3 separate regions of the Homo sapiens genome follow, and regions 1 and 3 are each linked to region 2. The links come from fine-mapping of genetic effects on gene expression. A gene starts in region 2. Each other region holds a variant in brackets. All regions are shown on one strand. Distances are from middle to middle. Region 1 overlaps ETV3L (ETS variant transcription factor 3 like). Region 2 holds the start of ARHGEF11 (Rho guanine nucleotide exchange factor 11). Region 3 has its middle 18 kb from the start of ETV3L.

Region 1 (4,000 bases), 49 kb before region 2:
GGGATTACAGGCGTGAGCCACCGCGCCCTGCCAGACTTTCATTTTATAAAGATGACTGTGTGTGTGTAGAGTTTGGGTTGGAGGAAGCATAAGACTGGAGTTGGGAGGCTTTTGAAGATAATCTAGGCAGGAGATGATGGGGCGGTAACCAAGACAACGGCCATGGGATGAAGAAGGAGGCTCAGCTGGAGAGAGATTGGGAAGATAGGGTTCATTCACTCATTCACTCACTCATTCATTTCTTCTTTCAACAGATGCTTAATGACCTCCTGTTTAATTTGCCAGGCACTGTCCTAGGGGCTAGGAAGCCAATGTGAGCAACACTGCCTTTATGGGACTTATAGGCAAGGGGGGTGCAGATATTCAACTAATGATCGATAAGTGATTATAACTGTGCTAACTGCTGCAGAGGAGAAGTGCAGGGTGCCGAGGGCATCAGGGAAGACTTCCTTGACAAAGTGACACTTGAGATGACACCCAAAGTATACGTGAGTGTCAGCTTAGCTCAGAGGGAGTAGGGAGAGCATGGCGAGCGAGAGAATAGTGTGTGCAATGGCCCTGGAACAGAGGGCGAGCGAGAGAATAGTGCATGCAATGGCCCTGGAACAGAGAGACTGGGAGAAGGCCAGTGCAGAAACACATGGCCAATGAGTGGGAGAAGAGGTGGAAATGGAGGCAGACATCAGCTCTTACAGAGGCTGTGAGCTGGGAACTGACAGTATCAGATTTTCTGTGAAAAAGATCACAGAGACACTTGGCCAAACCAAGGCTCTTGTGCAGAGGTCAAAGAATTGCCCCTCTACTCCAGCCAATTTCATGGAAGAAGGATCCATGGCCTTCACCCCACCCCTGAGCTGCTGGGGGCCCAAGCTCTGCACCCCTGGGAGTGCAGCTGAGGCCATGGGTGTGGGGTGCTCCAGGGCCTGCTGGGACTCGCTGGGCCTGGTCTGGCAGCCTGGAGCTAAATAGCACCTGAACAGTCCTCCCTGTTTCTCCACCCCCACCCACCCCGTCCCAGCTCTGGGAATGCCTTGGGCAGAGAGCTTCTCTCTTTAGGAAACTATAAGGGAAAGAAAAAAGTGTTCCCTCTCCAGGTGGATAGTGGTAGAAAAAAAAAAAGAAAGAAAGAAAGAAAGAAAAAAGTGTTCCCTCCCAAGCCCCACTTGGAGTGGGCTATTTTGCACCTCCCTCCCCTCTGCAGGCAAACACACATGCCCTGCCTATGCTTTGGCCCTAAGGGATGCTAAGCAGGTATAGGTCACCAGAAGATTGGAAGCAGCCACATGCCCCACTTCTAGATTGAGATTCCAGAAGCCTGTGCCAGCCCCTCACCTCCACCCCTCACTCAGAGCATTTGGTGCCAAGAAAGGAAGCTGCTTCCGGGAGTGCCAGGTCTATTGAGCCGGAGGCAGGGAGCTGCAGGGCCAGTGCTGGGAAAGGTTGGGAACCTGTTGGAGAATGAGAGGAGGACTCTTAGAAATAAAAATATCTCTTCCACATGCCCTCAGGAGCCCCGAGGGACACAGCCTTCCC[G/A]TGCAACAGCAGTCTCCACCTCATCTAAGGACCCAAGGAAAAGGACAATGACCCAGAGAGAGGGTGTTCTGATAGGGGCCTCCACACTTGTTCTTTAGAGGATCACTGTCACTGTTTTCTCCCTACATAGATCTGACTTCAGAAATATTCTTCTTATCAAATACACTGGACATATTAAGTAATAACTAATTTGTTTTTCCAGGTTTTTTTTTTTTTTTTTTTTTGAGACAGAGTTTCACTTTTGTTGCCCAGGCTGGAGTGCAATGGTGTGATCTTGGCTCACTGCAACCTCCGCCTCCCGGGTTCAAGCAGTTCTCCTGTCTCAGCCTCTCAAGTAGCTGGGATTACAGGTGCGTGCCACCACGCCCGGCTAATTTTTGTATTTTTAGTAGAGACGGGGTTTCATCACATTGGTCAGGCTGGTCTCGAACTCCTGATCTTAGGTGATCCGCTCGCCTCGGCCTCCCAAAGTGCTGGGATTACAAGCGTGAGCCACCACACCTGGCCTGTTTTTCCAGTTTTTATTCACTACAGCCCAACCAATGTGACTAAGTTGGGTTGATGCTTGTTCTTTTAGTTAAATGATGTGGTCTTGCTAAGAAAAATGTGGAATTGCAGTTAGGCTTTTCGAAATACAGAAAGTGATGTGAAGTTCTATATAGTCATCTCCAAGGCCCCCAGCTGGGAGGCCCTATTGTAGGGCCCTGGCAGGGTTGGAGAGGGAAAGAGGCAGGATTAGAAGGAGCAGGAAGAAGGAAGCCTTTTTGGAGGTGGAAAGTTATGGACCAGAGTGAGACAGAGAAGAAGGAGGCTGGGGCTCCCCATACCTGCCCTGGGCCTCCCGTCATGCACTCTGCAGGGCCTCTTCTTACCCATGACACAGCTTAATCCAAGCTAGGAGAGGGGATTTTATGGATGAAGAAACAGAGGACTGCAAATTTAAATGACAAGGCCAAGGCCACACAACCAGTTCTTTGCCCGGCTAGACTGGAGGCCCTTGCTGCAGGGGCAGGGAGTGAAGAATGGATCCATTGAGATATAGCAGAGAATATCCTTCCCTTATTCACTGGACACATTTTTCTTGAGCACTGATTATGTCCAGACTGGGTAGATTCGAGGGAAAATAAAACAACTACAGCCCCTGCCCCCAAAGAGTTGGGCTCACAGACATTAAATAAAAAGCACACAAATGACTACATGACCCTAACTCAGCCGAGTGCCCTTGGAGGAGAGGTTCATGGAGGGATGAGAGCAGGCAGCAGGCACTCTCGCCTAGGCTAGGAGTCTCAGAAGTCTTCTCCAAAGAGTGATATTTATGATGAGGCCTAAAGAAAAGCAGAAAAGGAGCTGTGCGCGGTGGCTCATGCTTGTAATCCCAGCACTTTGGGACGCCAAGGCAGGTGGATCACCTGAGGTCAGGAGTTCGAGACCAGCCTGACCAATATGGTGAAACCCTGTCTCTACAAAAAAATACAAAAATTAGCCGGATGTGGTGGCATGCACATGTAGTCTCAGCTACTCGAGAGGCTGAGACAGGAAAATTGCTTAAACCCGGGAGGCGGAGATTGCAGTGAGCCAAGATCACGCCACTGCACTCCAGCCTGGGCTACAGAGCAAGACTCTGTTTAAAAAAAAAAAGAAAAGAAAAAAAAGAAAAAAGAAAAGAAAAGCATAAAAGGAAGGGCAAGCCTGGCAACATGGCGAGACTCAATCTATACAAAAAACACAAAAATTAGCCAGGCATGGTGGCACACGCACCTGTAGTCCCAGCTACTCAGCAAGCTGAGGTGGGAGGATCGTTTGAACCCAGGTGGGGTTCAAGCCTACACTGCAGCCTGGGTGACAGAGAGAGACTCTCTCTCAAAAAAATAAGACAGAAAGAAAAGGAAGGGCAGTGGGGCGAGGAAGAGACTTCCAAGCAAGAAACAAGAAGGGCTGGGAAATGGGAGGAGCAAGGAGCATCTGCGAGAGGTTGGGCTCCCTTGACCCTTTCTCTCTTTCTTTCTCTAGGACTTGGCTCTGCCCCAGGCCCCTGCCGGCTGGGCCTTTGCTGCCATTTGGGGAGCGTCCAAGGCGAGCTGCCTGGTGTTGCCTCCTTCACTCCTCCCCTCCCGCCCCCTCTGCCCTCCAACTGGACCTGTCTCTCGGGGCCCTTCTTGCCTCCTCTCCCGTCAGAGCAGCAGCTCCCAGGGGCTTTTAAGCCAGACATCCTGCTCCCAGGACCTAGGAGCCTCCCAGGGGCCTGGCATTTTCCAGGGCTTCCTCTCTTGGCAGGGCTGGGACAGGGTGCGGGTGAGAGGCTTTGGCTCTTGTCCCTCAGGCCCGAGGGGCTGGAAGTAAAGCCTGCTCCCATGATGGAGGCAAAGGGAGGCCTGGATCCCAGGGAGGTCTTCTGCCCAGAGACCCGCAGACTCAAAACTGGGGAGGAAAGCCTTACTTCCCCCAATCTGGAGAACCTCAAAGCAGT
Region 2 (4,000 bases):
ACTTCTAACACTGGTGAGGTCACTCCAGAGCTCACGAATGTGTATAGATAATTTACATATACATATCCACCCCCTCCCAGAACAATCCAGGTAGTGTGAAAGGAGAGAACTTATGCAAACACCCCACTGCCTGCAGAGTATTTTACAATGGCATTTACCTAGGCAAGAAGGCAAAGTCCACTCCCCAATCCTAGTGAGAGTTTTTTTATTTTAATAATTTTTTAAAAAAAATTTTATTATTATTAGTTTTTTGAGACGGAGTCTCGCTCTGTTGCCCAGACTGGAGTGCAGTGGCGCAATCTCGGCTCACTGCAAGCTCCGCCTCCCGGGTTCAAGCGATTCTCGTGCCCTAGCCTACCGAGTAGCTGGGATTACAGGCACGCGCCACCACGTACGGCTAGTTTTGTATTTTTAGTAGAGGGGGGGGGTTTCACCATGTTGGCCCAGGATGGTCTCGAACTCCTGACCTCAGGCCCCGCCTCGGCCTTAATGATTTTTAATCATAACGCTCGGCACCTTCTGACAAATGTCACGTTACTTGTAAAGATTTAGAAACTGTGATTCTATGAGAGGGGGTTATGAAAATAGAATTGCTCTGGAAAGGCTCTTCCATAGAGTTCAAAGACACTTCACACAGCCTGCTATTAAGATGCCCAACCCAACCCGAGAGGAAACAGCGAAGGGTCTTCCCCCTAAGTCGGTGGTATTAGAAGTGGGAAGGACCACAGAAACGGGAGGAAACAGTTAAAAGAACTGACACCACGAAGGAGGCCGCAACAAATGTTTGAAAAATAAGATCAGAAGAGAGGTGGAGAGAGGGTGAGCCGCAGCTGCGGGCGCCGGGGTAATGCCGGTGGACGCAAAGAGGTAAACCTGCACCCGTGGGCAGGGGCACGGGGCGCGGGCACGGTGGCTGGGCGGGCAGGGGGTAGGAAACAAAGGTCGGCTCCCGAGCAGAAGTCAATAAAAGGGGGAAAAGCAGCCGAGGAAAAGCGGCGAAAAGGCGGCAGGGGTGGCGGTGGCGGTGGCGGCGGCGGGGACGGCGCGCGGTGCCTGGCGGGGTCAGGGCCGGGGTCGCCCGCGGGCCGGGCCGGGGATCCGGCTGAGATGGGAACCCGCTAGGCCGCGCCGAGGGGCAGGGCCGGCGACTGAGGGGCCGCAGAGGGGACCGGCCGAGGAGCGACGGCAAAGGGTTGTGGGGGGCAGGGCGCGCAGGGAGGCCGGGACAGGGGCGGGCCGGTCGGCGGGAGTCGCGGCCGCGGGAACCGAGGCAGGGAAAGGCGGTCAGCTTCCCGCCCCCGCCCCCGGCCGCCGCGGCGTGAGGGGAAAGGCCGGCGGGCGGCGGGCAGCGCAGCGAGGAGGAGGAGCCTGCGGCCCCGCCCCGCGGGAGCGAGGGAAGGAGAAAGGCTCGCAGGGAAGGAGGGAGGGAAGGGGGGCGGCCGGCCGGGCCTGCGCCCGAGCGAGCGGCGAACCGAGGGGGAAGGGGCCCGGAAGGAGGCGAGCGCGGCCGCGACGCCGGCAGTCGGACGCCCGCTCGTGCCGGCCTGCCGCAGCCGCCGCAGCCTTCCCTGTGCGCCGAGCCTGGCGTCCCGAGCGGCCGCGAAGGCCGGAACACGGCGGTCGGGCGCGGGGCGAGCGGCGCCGGGAGCCCGAGGCCCGGCCGGGCGTCCTGCGCGAGGCACTGCGGGCTCCTGCCTGCGAGATTAGGCGAGGGGCGGAAAGGGAGGCAAGGAGAGGCCGAGAGGAGACAGGCGATCGGATTTTCCAGGAGTCTGGTGTGGAAGAAAAACCCACCTCGAACTCAAATCCACAATAATAATCCGAACGAATAATAAGGGAGCCGTCTTTCTGGCCGGGCGAGAGAGAGGGAGAGAGAAGGGGGAACGGGAGGAAGCGAAATCTCCGTTTCATGGAGGCTGAGGCAAGAGAAAATTTCGGAGCCTGGATGTGGAGGAGCCCAACAGCAGAACTAACTCAGGAAATTGTCTTTCAGAAAAAGGCCGAACGTAGGCTGGGTCTGAGAATCAGGCTGGGGTAGGTGGAGGAACCTGCAAGTTTAAAGGAAAAAGAAAAGGAGAGAATATTTTCAGAGATTATCTCTGGTTTGTTATCATTACTACCATCTTAAAGGTAAAAAGCATTGCATTTCAGGTGTTCTTTGATTTTTATTTTATTTTTTTTTTTGGTGCAATTGGCTCATTTAAGAATTTCAAAACATTTAATGTAAAAGCTTTTTTTTTTTTAAGGAAGTCCATAAATTTTGGTTCCCAGGGTTGCACTGGACTTGGAAGGAGTGCTGTTGTGTACATACTATTGTATGGTTTTATTTATTATTTTACTGTACAAATCAGCCGAAAGAATTTTTCCAAGTGCCATTTCGGATTTATTAATCCTTTTTTTTTTCCTTTCCTCAAAGATATTTGCTGTTGTCATATTAAGCATTGGAGACTAGAAAATTACTTTCCCCCTTTGAGCTAGAGGGTCTCTTGCCAACAGAAGGACAGCTGAGAAAGCTGGATTTAAAGGATGGTTTTATCTGTACTTTGCAGTTAACAGTGATATTTTGAAGGCACATTTTTCTGTGATTCATTTTTTTTTGGCCATAGTGCTAACCTTGAAGAGATTCGTGGCTGGGTTTTTGGTTTCTGAGAAGGTCGTAGTTTTTCCTCTTTTCCTTTTTTTTTCTTTTTTCTTTTCTTTTCTTTTTTTTTAAAGCGGGGGAGGGGAAGAGGGGCTGAGAAAGGAAATCATGTTCACTGGTAGAAGTAGAGTGGAGCATCAGTTACCAGGGTCCTGAGAGCTGGAGGAGAAAGGATTCTATCTTCAAGTTGGGAGGCCCTCCTCTCACCTTGCTCAAAAATTGCAAGCGATTCAATCCTGATCAAGACACCAAAGCTACAGGATTCTGGAACCGTGGAGACACCGAGAAACCATGAGTGTAAGGTTACCCCAGAGTATAGACAGGTAGGTTTGCTAATAATTTGATTTTTCAACATTGACTAAAGGAAAGACTGGGAGGGGTGGTGTTGCATTTTAATAAATGGTTGAAAATAGGGGTCTGGGTGGGCTATGGGAATTGGTGGGCTAGGAGCATTAGTCTCTGGGGACTGTCAGCCTATGTGGTTATGTGCAAAAACATAGCTCTTGATTCAGCGTCTTTTGAATATAAGCAATAAACAGTGAAGCCAGGAGAGGGAAAGGAGGAGGATGTGCTTCCAGTGGCTTTTGACTTTTGCCAGGGTAGAGGCTGAATTTGAGTCCACCCAACTTGCTAGTCTCAGGTGGGGGCAAGCCAGTCTTGTGAGCTCCTAGGGTTGCACTAGGGGGACTGGCTTTAGGTGTTGGAGCTGCTGGGAGAAGGGCCCTGGCAGAGGCGTGGGCCTCCACCAGGCTGGTTGGTATGGAATGGTGGGGCTTGGTGACGGGGTGGATCCCATTTCTAGAAATGAAGAGGATGTTCTTGGCCTGAATGATGGGACAGAAACATCCTTTGCACCCATGCAAGTCTGGATTTTTACCAGTAGCTGACATGGTCCCAAAATGCATAGATCACATTAGAATTTCCTCTCCTCCAAGCTTAGAGTTTGAATTGAGACCTGCCAACCGGCTGATGCTCTAGGTTTAATCTTCCAAGCTGTTCTTAATAAGCTTGACTCTGCAAAATGGGCCTTCCCTCTGCCTGGAGCCAGAAGAAATTGTTTTGGGCTCGTAGGCCTGCTGGGCAGCAGCACTGGCCCTCAGAGTCTGAACACATGACACCCCTTGCCCCAAGAGTCTGCCCAGCCACCTCTATCACTGGTAATGTTACTGTGTGGTTGCAATTCTTACCTCCAAATGATTGGTACAACTTTGTAAGGTGTCTGCCTTTTCCTTCCCTCCCCTACCCCTCCTCAACGCTTCTCCCCATGAGAACCTTGCTGTGGGGGGTGTGTTTTGTGGGCACTGCACACATCCTAACTGGATAGATGGGTGGTTGAAGGACTGAACAAGCAAATGAAAG
Region 3 (4,000 bases), 37 kb before region 2:
CAGGCAGGGCAACCACAGGGGAAAACTGAGTGACCACCACCATAAATACCTGGAGGGTTCAGCCAGAAGAAAGCAAGCAACAGGTGAGACTGGGTCTTTGGGCATCCTAATGCCATGAGACCCACGCAGCTCAGATACCATGGACCACTGCCAGGACTTAGCAATGGAGCCAGGGATATCGTCCAGTCCATCCATTTATTTTTTAGTTGCAGGTTCAAAGGCCCCTGAGGAGAGTTGTTCCAGGTCATCAGGAAAAGTAAAACCTATGTATGAACCCCTGAGTGTCAATCACACTCACTTTTCCTACCATCAACTTGCTGTGAACTGATGGAGAAAATCTCCCAACTGCAAGACTTGTTGCTACCATAAACCCCTCCCTCTCCAACCTCATCTGGCCCTCACAAGCCTTTTGCTAGTCCTGGGTCAGCTCTCAGCATCTGTTCTAAATCTTCCCCCACCCACATCCCACTCCCTTCATCTCCAAAGTCTACTGCAATTCCTTGGCCAGGCGCAGTGCCTCACACCTCTAATCCCAGCAGTTTGGAAGCCTGAGGCAGGTGGATCACCGGAGGTCAGGAATTCAAGACCACACTGAACAACATGGTGAAACCCCGTCTCTACTAAAAAATACAAAAATTAGCTGGGCATGGGGGCAGATGCCTGCAATCCCAGCTACTTGGGAGGCTGAGGCAGGAGAATGGCTTGCAACCTGGGAGGTGGAGGTTGCAGTGAGCCAAGATAGCGCCATTGCACTCCAGCGTAGGCGACAGAGCAAAACTCCGTCTCAAAAAAACAAACAAAACAAAACAAATAAAAAAACAAAGTCTACTGTACTTCCTACTAGGGCTTCCTTTCCTTCCGCCAGTCCTTACTTCTAGTCTCAAGAATGGGTTGTTCCTGACCCAGTGATGTAACCCCTCCACCTGTACCAAACAAGGAAAGTCAAGCAGGTGTTAGCTCTTGTGCCAACTCCAGTTAATTGACTGGGACGCAACTAGGAAGCACATGGTCAAGAAGGATTCCAAGGTTGTGCTGGGGGCTTAGGAAGGAGAGTGGTGCCGTGTTTTTTTCCATGACTTTCATAGTACTAAATCCAGTGACCACATTTTTGTCCTTATCTTATTTTGTCCTCTGGTTGTGACATCATGGACAGCCCTTTGTTCCATTAGCTGCCAATATCCATCCCTTCCCAATTCTCTCTTTCCTAAGACTGTTGCTTTTCAAACTCATTTCTGGGCATTCCTCTGTATCCTCGACTTTGGGGTTCTCCAGAACACTGGTCCACAGCTCTGTGTATTTTACACATCCTTCCTAGAGAGTTTCCATCTGGGCTTCTCTCTGTGCCTTAACCACCACCTAAATGCTGACTGCTCCTAGATCTGTATGACTAGCCCTGACCTCTGGCTCAAGCTTCAAGGTCATGGGTCCAAATGCCCACTGAGCATTGCTGCCTGGATGTCCCATAGGCATCTCAAACTTAGCATGTCCAAAATGGAACTCTTTGTCTCAACACCTGGTGCTGCCTTCCGCTCTCCTTTTCTTTCTGTTCCTTGCTTTAGTTAATGACACCACAATACATCCAATTATACCAAAGCAGGAACCAGGGTGTCAGCCCATGCTGTCTTTTCCCCCACCGCCTATACCCAGTAGGTTGCCAGATCCGATCAGTTTCACCTTCTAAACATTTCCGAAATCTGCTTTCTCCTGGACAACTCTACACTGACTTAGTTTAGGCCCTACAGATAGTCTAATCTTGTCCCTTTCCAATCCATACTCCATATTGATCATTTAACTTAAAACTCTTCAATGGCTCCCCTGAAAGGAAAAAAAAAAATCTCTCTATCCCCCTAGTGATGATAATTTATATGTACTATAATGTCATTTAAAAAGATATAGACATAAAACTAGGTATAAATATATATTTATGGCACATAAAACTATAAAAGCAATGGCAATTTACCAATTAAATAGAAACAAAACTATAAAGCCAATACATTTTAAAATAAAAACATTAATGTATTGTGACAGATGATGTTTGCTGAAACTAATTGCT[G/A]CACAAAATGCGATCGTGGAATGGAGAGTTCCAGCTCAGGGTCTCTGGAGTTTGGCACGCTGTGCAATGACTCACTTCTCCCACCACTTTTCTCTATTGGAACTTCTGCTCACCCTTTGTTCATTCAGCCTGCTGGGAGGACATTTGGCCTCCTCCAGGCTCAAACGCATCATTTACATATTAAGTCCTCCTCTGTTCTTTTCTAATTAGCTGAGACAATTAAAGCAGCACTACTTGGTGCCAGCTCATCACAAACACAAAGACGAATGCAGACACTGAAATCATTTGGCAATACAGGTTATAAAGTGCCACCCAGATGATCCAAACCATGATTATCTCATTTGTTTTTTATATTATCATTAAAAGTAAGACACAAAAGTTAACATTTTCCTAGAAAGTCCATGGACTTCAGATGAGACCTAAAGAGCCAGGCCCAAGCTCCCTACAACATGGAATCCAGGAGCTCATCACTGGACCCCACGCACTCACAGACACACTTCTGCAGCCACTTCCCAACACCCGCTTGGCACCCTGGTGGTACCAAATCGCTTGTGTTTCTGTGCTTTGGATGTCTGCTCATCCCTCCGACTGACAGGCCATGCCTGCCGTCTTCTTAGGCTAACTCCTCCTAATCCTTTAGGAGTTTGCTCAGAAGCTCATCTTTTTTTTTTTTTTTTAGACGGAGTCTTGCTCTGTCGCCCAGGCTGGAGTGCAGTGGCGCGATCTCGGCTCACTGCAAGCTCCGCCTCCCGGGTTCACACCATCCTCCTGCCTCAGCTTCCTGAGTAGCTGGGACTACAGGCACCCGCCAACACGCCCAGCTAATTTTTTTGTTTTTGTACTTTTTTTTAGTACAGACGGGGTTTCACCATGTTAGCCAGGATGGTCTCGATCTCCTGACCTCATGATCCGCCCACCTCTGCCTCCCAAAGTGCTGGGATTACAGCGTGAGCCACCACACCCGGCCTAAATATTTCCCGGCCCAGAAGCTCATCTTGACACCACAGGCAGGGTCAACTGCCTTTCCTCTGTGCCTAGCTTTATCATAGCACTGACTGCATCGTGTGCAAATTACCCTGGAATGTAAGCTGCCCCAGGGCAGGGACGAGGCCCTATCAAGCTCTAGATAGGGCCTAGATAGGGTCTGGCATATGGCAACACGCAACAAGGGCTGCTGAACTAAAATCCAGGCTCCATGCTGTACTGGAGAGAAACTCTGACGGTGGCTGGGCTGTAGAACTTGCTTTGATGACCGTCTGTGATCTTAGACATGTCATTTCATCACCTCGAGCCCCAGCTGCCCCAACTATGAAACAGAGATGATACAGATATACTGGTACAGGTGCAAAATCACAAGGAAATTTGATGCAGCATGATTTCAAAAGAAAAATATCGGAAGCGCCTAAATGTCCACCTTTGGTGTGCTGATTAAACAAATAATGGTACATCCATACAACGGAACACTATGCACTGTCAAAAAGAAAGCAGAAGCTTATTATGTACTGATGTGGAATTACCTCTCAAGTTTGTCTTAAAAGAAAAAAGTGGGAGCAGAAGAGTATATGTGGGATTTTACTATTTGTTTAAGAAGGGGGAAAATACATATATAGATTTGTGTTGACTTGATTAGGTACTAAAATGCTTGAAAAGGACCGGGCACGGTGGCTCACGGCTGTAATATCAGCACTTTGGGAGGCCAAGGTGGGTGGATCACTTGAGGTCAGAAGTTCGAGACCAGCCCGGCCAACATAGTGAAACCCCATCTCTACTAAAAATAAAAAAATTAAAAAATTAGCCAGGTGTGGTGGTGCACGCCTGTACTCTCAGCTACTTGGGAAGCTGAGGCAGGAGAATCACTTGAACCCAGGAGGCAGAGGCTGCAGTGAACTGAGATCATGCCACTGTACTCCAGCCTAGGTGACAGAGCAAGACTCCACCTCAAAAATA

Evidence for each region. PIP is the estimated chance that this variant, and not a neighbour inherited with it, causes the effect. A credible set is the group of variants that fine-mapping cannot tell apart.
Region 1: its variant is the best candidate, but not a certain one, in a credible set for the expression of ARHGEF11 in whole blood (TOPMed, PIP 0.85).
Region 3: its variant is the best candidate, but not a certain one, in a credible set for the expression of ARHGEF11 in whole blood (INTERVAL, PIP 0.81).

What each region holds. Positions count from the first base shown.
Region 1 is chr1:157,092,671-157,096,670 of GRCh38, reverse strand. It overlaps ETV3L (ETS variant transcription factor 3 like), which reads left to right. Exons shown (of 5, transcript NM_001004341.2): 5 at 3,544-4,000. Among named protein-coding and RNA genes, the nearest start is that of ETV3L, 5.1 kb to the left of the region's middle. The variant G/A (reference allele first, on the strand shown) is at 1,534.
Region 2 is chr1:157,043,263-157,047,262 of GRCh38, reverse strand. It overlaps ARHGEF11 (Rho guanine nucleotide exchange factor 11), which reads left to right and starts at 1,521. Exons shown (of 41, transcript NM_198236.3): 1 at 1,521-2,964. The coding sequence starts at 2,933. RefSeq lists a silencer at 1,311-1,610.
Region 3 is chr1:157,080,063-157,084,062 of GRCh38, reverse strand. No RefSeq gene overlaps it. Among named protein-coding and RNA genes, the nearest start is that of ETV3L, 18 kb to the left of the region's middle. The variant G/A (reference allele first, on the strand shown) is at 2,054.